Linked DNA regions of Homo sapiens: region 1 is linked to region 2. The links come from fine-mapping of genetic effects on gene expression. Tissue or cell type: esophagus mucosa. Region 2 holds a variant in brackets; the other region holds the start of a gene. All regions are shown on one strand. Distances are from middle to middle.

The links. PIP is the estimated chance that this variant, and not a neighbour inherited with it, causes the effect.
Region 1: CRYL1 starts here. The variant in region 2 is fine-mapped to the expression of CRYL1 in esophagus mucosa (GTEx, PIP 0.98).

Annotation. Positions count from the first base shown.
Region 1 is chr13:20,523,224-20,528,231 of GRCh38, reverse strand. It overlaps CRYL1 (crystallin lambda 1), which reads left to right and starts at 2,375. Exons shown (of 8, transcript NM_015974.3): 1 at 2,375-2,478. The coding sequence starts at 2,438. RefSeq lists an enhancer at 1,860-1,969 and a silencer at 2,150-2,699.
Region 2 is chr13:20,491,203-20,496,202 of GRCh38, reverse strand. All of the region lies in intron 2 of CRYL1 (crystallin lambda 1), which reads left to right. Among named protein-coding and RNA genes, the nearest start is that of CRYL1, 32 kb to the left of the region's middle. RefSeq lists an enhancer at 2,362-2,861. The variant C/G (reference allele first, on the strand shown) is at 3,021.

The DNA.
Region 1 (5,008 bases), 32 kb before region 2:
CCATGCTGAAATAAAGAAATTTGTCTAACTTCTTGTCCACTTGAATTTCTGTACAACAGATCTCTAGAATTGGAACTGCTAAGCCAAAGGGTACATACATTCTAAATTTTGTGTATGTCAGAAACTGCAAGGGTCTGAGATTTTCACTAAATTGCAACAGAGGTTCTGCACTTGGATGCTGACAGAAGTCACGAGACTCCTGGATTAAAAATAAATTATCTTATTACAGTAAAAGCAATAGCCAGAGTGACACCATATTTATATGGGTTCTTGGATCCTTAATTCCCACAGGGTTACATAGAGGGCCAGATGACTCCTGTGTTTGCAACGAGCAAGGGCCCAGCACTTTTTGCTTTCTTTTTTTTTTTGAGATGATGTCTCGCTCTGTCGCCCAGGCTGGAGTGCAGTGGCGTGATCTTGGTTCACTGCAAGCTCTGCCTCCTGGGTTCACACCATTCTCCTGCCTCAGCCTCCCGAGTAGCTGGGACTACAGGCGCCTGCCACCACGCCTGGCTAATTTTTAGTAGAGACGGAGTTTCACCGTGTTAGCCAGGATGGTCTCGATCTCCTGACCTTGTGATCCGTCCGCCTCGGCCTTCCAAAGTGCTGGGATTACAGGCGTGAGCCACCGCGTCCAGCCACTTTTGCTTTCTTTTGAGACAAAGTCTTGTTCTGTTAGCCAGGCTGGAGTAGAGTGGCAAAATCATAGCTCACTGCAGCCTTGAACTCCAGGGCTCAAGAGATCCTCCTGAGTAGCTGGGACTACAGGAATGCACCACCACACCTGGCTAATTTAAATAAATCTGTATTTTTTTTGTTTGGTACCAGAAGGATTAAAGTTATAAATATATGTACACATAAATAAATAAATATATAAACACACACACACACACACACACACACACATATATATACACACACACTAGAGATGCGGGGGGGGGGGTTCTCACTATCTCGCACAGGCTGGTCTCAAACTCCTGGCTTCAAGCAATCCTCCTGCCTCAGCCTACTGAGTAGCTGAGACTACAGGCGGCACCAGCCTGGATAAGTTTTTTAATTTTTTGGTAGAGACAGGGGTCTCGCTTTGTTGCCCAGGCTGGTCTTGAACTCCTGGCCTCAAGCTATTATTTACTACTCAGCTTCCCAAAGCGCTGGGATTTCAGGCATGACTTTGCAGGGAGCAGCAAACAAGCCAGTCTGCTGCCCCCATAGCCTCCGGTAGTGAGCAGTCACAGGATGCTCACTCCCTGGGTGCCTTGATTATTATATTGGCTGCCTGTGTAACTGACTACAGAAACTGCTCCATCAGAAGATGGAAGCTTTGGAGCCTTGTATTCTCAGCCAGAGCAGGCGCGGTTGCTCAGGCTAGCGGCTGTCTCAACAATGTACTGTAACATTCCCTCCAAAAAGTCCTCAACATTTAAGCTTGCCTTCTACTGTGTGTAAGTTGCATGTCCGAAACACTCCATTACGGATATGGGAATATAATCAATCCATGTGACTTAGCCAATCTGATGAGTGAGAGATGACTTATCTTCCTTGTGTTACTTTTCATTTCTCTTGAGGTTGAATACTTTACAAATATTTATCGATAATTTGTGAAACTGTTCTTTAAAAAACAAAACAAAACAAAAAAACCTAACCCCTCCCCTGAGATTTCTCTTTCCACGTTCCTGACTCAGGGGAAACAAAGGAAGACTTCCTTTTATCATCTCAGTGTTGGCTGCGGTTCCAGCTTGAGTACTGTCTCCTCTGTCTAATGACTGTGTCATTTCCCGTTCAGCTTGTGCTGTGTGGACGCACACCACTGTCAGGCAATGTGTGATGCCCCTTCCTCTTGGTCTGTTCCGGGCTCCAAGAAGGCCAGGAGTCAGGGCACGAGGGCATTTCCTTTTTCTGATACATAAACCGAGTGCAGAGTGTGCTCCGTGGAGGAATTCAGACGTGTCCTTCCGTAGCGCAGATGAACGCATCAGGTGTTCTCTTTCACTGCTGTCGCAGTCCCTGCGCCCAGTTCGCAGTTGGCGGCAGCGGCAGGCGTCTTTCAGAGACGAATTAGCAAAGGGGACATTCTCTGACAGTTTCTCTAGGGTGCTTTAGCGCTAGAGCCCGTGCCAGCCTGCCCGTGTCCCCTCCTATAGACACGGACTTCACGGTGAATGCTGACAGTCACAAGCGCGTGGTCTTCCCGCTTTCCACCCCCCGACGTGCCCCCGCGCTGGTCCTGCCCCTGCCCACGAGGGTCGGCGCGCCGTGTGTCTCCCGGTGTCTCGGGCCCGCGGCGCGCACCCCACTCAGGGACCAAGCGGCCCTCCCCGCCCTCCCGGTCCGCGCGCGCAGCCAATGGGCGCGGGACCCGCCCTCCCCGGAGCCCAGAGCTCGCAGCTCCGCCGGCGCCTGGTCCCAGCGCCCGCGGCGCCGCGTCCCCGGCCCAACCATGGCGTCCTCCGCGGCCGGCTGCGTGGTGATCGTTGGCAGGTAAAGGGCTCCGAGCCGCGCTGCTGCCCCTGGAGCCCGGGGAGACGCCGGGGACGTGGTGCCCTCGCGTGGGGCCCTCGGGGTGGGCGCCGGGTCGCTGTCCCCGCCCCGGCCTCCGGTCCTCCGAAGCCCTGCGCCCTGCGGCCCCTACGGCGCTGGCGGGCTCGGGGAGAGGCGCGGCTGGAGGGGCTTGGCAGGTGGAGGCGCCCCGCGGAGTTGGGTCTGCTTCCCGGGAGCCAGCGTTGCAGGAGGTTCCGAGGTTGACCGCCCAGGCCGCGGGGCCTGCGGTTCCTGGACTCTGTTGAATGTCGCCGCGTCTGCCCGCAGGTCCACATAGAAGTGCCAGGCACCGTGTTGAATGAAACGAATTCTGGCTGCGATCCTGCGACGACTGTGTTCTCATCCCCATTTTACGAATGAGAATACTGAGACTAAGCAGTTTACCTAAGGTCACAGGCGTTTAGTGACGGAGACAGGACTAGCCCAGCAGGGAGGGTGCCAGCGCAGTCCTGTCGGCGACGATGTCGCTGGAGGCCGCAGCAGGTGTTAGGCGAACATACACGCAGTCCTAATTCCTGGGCGAGGCGATGTTTCCAGAGGGGAGGTGGGGGCCGATGGAGCCCAGAGAGTTTGCTAAGTGTGTCCATTTAACAGCTTAAATTCTGCCCAAACTGATTTTTAGTGTGTGCTTCCCCCACCCCGCCCCCCACCCCTACGGTTACAATCCTTGCTATTTTTGTTTTTTAAAAAGGGGCATTTGTATGTACCTTTCTTTGGCCAGCTGTTAGCAGCAATCTATAAACATGTTAATACTTGCTATTGATAGTTAAAAGCACCTTTTTGGTGACTGCTGTTGAGGTGTTGGCCTGCCCCCGACTCCGCCCCCCATCAGTGTACAACCCGGTGTGGAGACCACTTCCAATGTCAGGGTGTTTCCTTCCCACTGAAGGAAGGCATCAGATTCCTTGTTGTCAGCTTTCTTTTCTCCAGAGCAGTGGAGTTAACTGTGCCTTTGTTCTTTCTGGCCCATGAGTGCCCGTGGTTGAATAGTGAAGGCATATTAAAAAGTGCACTTTGGGCCGCGCGCGGTGGCTCACCCCTGTAATCCCAGCACGTTGGGAGGCCGAGGCAGGCGGATCATCTGAGGTCGGGAGTTCGAGACCAGCCTGACCAATATGGAGAAACTCCGTCTCTACTAAAAATACAAAATTAGCCGGGCGTAGTGGCACATGCCTGTAGTCCCAGCTACTCGGGAGGCTGAGGCAGGAGAATCCTTTGAACCCGGGAGGCGGAGGTTGCGGTGAGCCGAGATGGTGCCATTGCACTCCAGTCTGGGCAATAAGAGCGAAACTCCGTCTGAAAAAAAAAAAGTGCACTTTGTACCAGTGGTGGTAGTTACCTCTGTCTTGCATTTTATTAATAGTTACCAGAGTTTATGTGTGTGTGTATATATATACACTCACACATATATATACACACACAGTTTTTACACGCATGCGTGCGCGCACGCGCACACACACACAATTTTAATAGGATAGGGTCTCGCTCTGTCGCCCAGGCTGGAGTGCAGTGGCACTATCATGGTGGATCTCCACCTTCCGGGCTCAAGCCATCCTCCCACAGCAGGCATGTGTCACCATACCCGGCTGATTTTTAAAATTTTTAGGTAGAGATGGGGTCTCACCATCTTGCCCTGGTTGGTCTTGAACTCCTGGGTGCAAGCGCTTTGGCCTCCCAAAGTGTTGGGGTTACAGTTGTGAGCCACCTTGCTTGGCCTTGTATAGGTCCATCATGCCTTGGAGTAGTGTTATGCATGCACCTAATACATGTGAAGTAAAGTTTTAGTTGATTGTGCAGTTATCTGGCTGTGGGTGGCTCAGTCTACTGAGGAGGAGCTTCAGTTAACAGTTTACTTCTGATTCCTTGAGGGATGTTGATAAGGAATTAGAGAAAGGCTTCCAAACTTTAAGGACCACATAATTCTCTGGGGCCTCTGCTTGTTTCTTTGTTTTCTGGTGTGAAAATCTTGTCTTTCCCCCACCCTCAGCACTTCAGCACACACCCAGCTCTGCCTCTGGGACAGTGCTGGTTTCTTCCCTTCCTCTTTACCACCCTTCTTTCTCGTCCCTCTATTTCTTTCCTGGCCCCACAGGTGATTCCAAGGAACACCCACTTAACAAATAGGGCTTGGGGAATGTCAATTAATTTGCCAAAACCTGGTTCAGTTTCATTCTTAGGTTTCAACAGACCAAAATATACATATTTCAATTTCAGGAGCATATTGTGTTTTCAGCTTTCCTTATCAGTTTATAGATTTCATCTTGAAAGTACCTGCTAGGAATACAGTCCCACTTAATTCTTTTCCGCTGATCTTTTTCCAAAGTTCACTCTTCCTTAGGGCCACTTAGCTGTCCTATAAACATCCAGGGCAAGTCCCTTCAGAATGGGGAGGGCTTGAAAGAGGATGAGAGAAACTCTTTTGGGCCTAGGGCTGCAGGAAAATCTGGTAGTGATAACTTTTAAAAATGGG
Region 2 (5,000 bases):
GACTGCTCTGGGTACCTGTTGTAGGTGGAGTCATATGGCATCTGTCCTTTTGTGTCTGGCTTATTTCACTTAAGCATAATGTTAAGTAAAAAGTTCATCCTAGGCCGGGCGAGGTGGGTCACACCTGTAATCCCAGCACTTTGGGAGGCCAAGGCAGGTGGATCACCTGAGGTTAGGAGTTCAAGACCAGCCTGGCCAACATAGAGTGAAAACCCGTCTCCACTAAAAAATACAAAAATCAGTTGGGTGTGGTGGTGCATTCCTGTAGTCCCAGCTATTTGGGAAGCTGAGGCAGGAGAATCGCCTGAAGCCGGGAGGGGGAGGTTGTAGTGAGCTGAGACTGCGCCACTGCACTCCAGCCTGGCATATGACATATGACAGGACTTCCTTCCCCTGTGGGGCCGAATAAGATTCCACCGTAGGTGTGAAACCATGTTTTGTTTATCCCTCCATCTGTTGGTGGACTTTTGGATTGCTTGCTTCTTCTGTTGTTGACAACACTGCTAGGAACATGACTGTGCAAATCTCTCTTTGCGATCCCGCTTCAGTTCTTTTGGATATATGCACAGCAGTGGGGTTCCTGGATCATATGGTGGCTCTATTTTTAACTTTTTGAGTTACCACCATACGTTTTCCACAGCAGCTGTGCCGTTTCCACATTCCCATCATCAGTGCACAAGGTTCCAATTTCTTCAGTCTTTTTTAAAAATAAATACATGCTCCTTTTGAGTACATTTCAAAGATAGAAACATTAAAAAAAATTAAAATCACCCATACCCTGTCCTACCGTGAGAATTGTTAACATTTCCTTTTCTCTAATTTTAAGTAAAAATTTAACTTTACTGGTTAGGAGCCAGTATTTTGAGTCCTAGTGTTAGGCTGACCTCTAGAGGTAGAACTGGCACATTGCAGCCTTCTACTAGTGCCTCTAACCTGACGTTAACTGTTAAGTGTGGCAATGCCACAGCCTGGTATGTGTGTGGCATTTGAAAATCCCGGTTGATTGGCACATCTTTTCTAGGTGTTTATGTACGTCTTCTACAAAGCTTGATGCAGAAGTTCTTCCAAAAGAATAAAAAAAATTGGAATTAATCTAACTGGGACAAAATGTTGCCAAAAGGCTGGGTTTGATTTGTGGCATGTGGATTTGTTGGCCCTAAAGAGAACACAGGGGTCTGTCTGCAGATGTCGGAAGCTCCTCCGCAGCTTTCACTGGACGTCCCTCGGGACCACACAGCAGGGTCCTGGAGTTTGCAGTTGGCTGATGGGTTCATGTGTGACCGTGTCTCTCCCTCATGCCCAGGTTCTCTGTCCTACCTGTGTGTGCTGCCCAGGGAGGAAGGGCCTGAGGCAGAACCACCACTGCACATTCCTCAGCCTGAGTCTGCTCTGAAAGAGGCGAGTGGTTGTGTCTTTTCTTGCCACTGCTTGCTGTCTCCATGGGACATTCTCATTCCGGGGTGGTCCCTGGAGGATCGAGGAACAAGAGACTCCTGTTCTCCCATTATCTGTCTAATCTCATGCAGTACTTTTGGGAAAAAAGGCTAAAAGTTTGCTTTGGATTAGTGGAAAGGTTTGAAGACGCACAGCTGGCCTACTAAGGCTTGGAGCAGGTGCTTTGAGCACATCAGGCGCTCAGACATAGTTTCCTAAAGGATGCAATGGTTACTCACTATGTTCCCAGACCTTGGCATCCAGAGACCCTGTGTGTGTTCAGTGGAAAGATGGTTGGGTGAGGCTGGGATGATGGCGCTAAGAGATTCATTTAGGTTTTGTTTACTTAAAAAGTGACAAAGAGGATTGGCGGTGGTTAGTTCTGGAGGGTGGAGAGATGAGGATGTTTATTATTCTTTCTACATTTAAAATTTCTTAAATAAATTATGAAAAGGAAATAGTCTTAGAAAAGCAATGGGCGCAGTATTAAACATCTCACTTATTCCTCCGTAACACAAAAAACTTTCAATTAAGCTGAAGTGAGTTTTTGCTTGGTAGCTACAAATAGCTCTTCTGCCATATGAATGTTTTTCTTCTGGTTGTGTTTATGGGCAGTGTGGTTGTCTTTTACCAATGTTGACTCCAAGGCTTAGCCACTGCTGCAGGTCAAACTTATATAAATCGTATAGTTAAAAACTGAAAAATTCAAATGTGTTGTAATCTCCAAACAAAGTCTGCGCTAGGCCCTTTCAGGCTATAAAGGACAGGGTACTCTGATTTCTGCTCTTGATGAGGGTTGATTGTGATACCAGGCGAGGGAGTAAGAGATACAGGACACCATCTCTGCGGCTGCATCTTTGTCGCAGAAACAGACATTGTTCAGGGGACACCTGAGCCTCTGATAGTCAGCCAGTGGCTCTGGCAGCTCACAGCAGTTATAGGGTGGCTGTGTCCTTTTCTAAAGTCCTGACTTTTTATGGCCTGTGGTCATGGTGACTCCACTACGGGCTGTGTTTCTGTTGCTCCTTCCTGCCCTCAACCAGTCTGCCCACTGTGGAAGTCTGCATTTCTTCTCCTTCTCCTTCTCCTTCTTTCTTCTTCTTCTTCTTCTGATGGAGTTTAGCTCTGTCGCCCAGGCTGGAGTGCAGTGGCGTGATCTCGGCTCACTGAAATATCCACCTCCCAGGTTCAAGTGATTGTCCTGCCTTAGCCTCCTAAGTAGCTGGGATTACAGGGATGTGCAGCCTCACCTGGCTAATTTTTGTATTTTTAGTAGAATCGGGGTTTCACCATGTTTGCCAGGCTGGTCTCAAACTCCTGAGCTCAGGTAATCTGCCCACCTCGGCCTCCCAAAGTGCTGGGATTACAGGTGTGAGCCACCGCGCCTGGCCTGGGTCTGCATTTCTGACCGCCCTGTCGCTATAGGGCTCAGGCTTCCCTTGGGCTGGTTACTGCAGCCACCACCGGCTGCCTATGGGCCTCTGCCATTGGCCCAGATTCACATGTGGGGTCCAGTCCGTGGAAGTCATGGTAGTAAGCTCACATGGCAAGAAGGTAATGGAGAATTTCAGAGGCCTGCCTCGGAG[C/G]ACCAGTTCCAAGGGGTGCTTGACAGCCACAGCTGGCGGCTGCTCAGTCTTGCTAATCTAGAGCTTCGATTGTAACAGCCAACCCGAGTCTGTGCAAGATGGGAATCTAATTGGAGATCTCTGACAGAAGCTAGAGTTCTCTAACAGCTACATCATTGGCGAAAAAGAGAACTTGGATCCCCTAAATGGAGGGTCACCGGTGGGGGCATTGACTCTGAGTGGAGGGGAGGAAGAGTTTCTCTGAGAATTTATAACCATAGAGCAATCCTCAAATTCATACTACCTGTGTCATCTGGAAAACCCCCAAGCCAAGAATTCAGATTGGTTCCTTGGTTGGTAGCACCCCCAAGTGCCTGGCAGGAGCAAATTGCATATCATCCTCAGAACAATATACCTGCAACCACAGTTAGATGTCCAGATTTTTGGCATAGCTTTGGATGAGCCAGAACTTTACATGGCAAATGGGACGTTGCAGATGTAATTGAATTAAGAATGGCAAGATGGGGAGATTATCCTGGAATAGCTGGCTTGGCCTGGTGTAATCACATGGGTCCTTAGAGGGATAAAGGAGGAAGGAGACATGATGGCAGAAACAGGTGGGGCAGGGTTGGCTGGCTATGGAGGGGGAAGGGGTCATGAGCCACGGATGCAGGCAGCCTCTAGAAGCTGAGACAGGCCAGGAATGCATTCTCCCTGAAACCTCCAGAAAGAGTGCGTTCCCTGCTGACGCTTTGATGTTAGTCTACTTGGGGTTTCTGACCTCTAGAACTGTAAGATAATACATTTGTATTGTTTAAGCCACTGTTTGTGATAATTTGTTACAGTAGCAATAAGATATTAATGCTACTGCTTTATTGAGATAAATTTACATGTCATACAATTGACTCATTTGACACGTCCAATTCAGTGGTTTTATAGTATGTTTACAGAGTTGTGTAACAACATTTTCAAAGATGGATCAAAACATACTACACAGTGAATGATAAATGAGCTTTGGATCACATGGTGCTCTCTTTTCCTGAATAAAGCCACTTAAGAGGCACAGTCTGTGTTCAGGGAAGTGTGCTGAGTGCTGTTGATGCTGAATCGCAGGACCCTGTAGGACCCGTGAATGTCTGCGTTTCCTTTTTACCTTAATAGAGGAACCTTTTCTCATGACCCTTTTTGTTATATTTCCCTCCATGATGTTTCAAATATCTATTTACTGGCACTTACCTTGGACCAGTTCTTTTTTGATTTAGCTATTAGAAATCTTAAATTTCTAATCTGTTGCTAAGACACCTCATAGTACCCTATGCAACTAGTAAACTTCCAGATGAACTGGCCAAGACACATATTTGGTTTTGTATATTTTTCACTAACTTACTTTTGTTTTTTGCTTGCTTGTTTTTTGAGACAGGGTCTCGCTCTGTCATCCAGGTTGGAGTACAGTGGCACAATCATGGCTTACTGCAGCCTCCACCTCCTGGGCTCAAGTGATTCTCCCACCTCAGCCTCCCAAGTAGCTGGGACTACAGGTGTGCACCATCACGCCCAGCTAGTTTTTGTATTTTTTGTAGAGACGAGGTTTCACCATGTTGCCCAGGCTGGTCTCAAACTCCCGTCCTCAAGTGACCCGCCTGCCTTGGCCTCGCAAAGTGCTGGAATTACAGGCGTGAGACACTGTGGCTGGCCTCACTAACTTTATAAGCCTCTAATTCAAGGAATTTGTTCTATATGAAAATTTGAAAATGCCTGCTCACTGGGGATGGTGGTCCAGGATATTTAGTACTTAACACTGAGTTGTTTTGTGGGTGATGAGATCTGAGCAGGGATCAGTATGTTTGTCCTTATAATTGTCCAAAATAAGATAGCTGTTTTATGGCCCTATTTTAAGATAAGTAGATTTTTTTAAGCTGATATATTACGAATCTTCCAAATTACTTATATGAGAAAAACATCTCAAAGATTCTTTCCTTCCTTTTAAAAAAATTTAGGGCC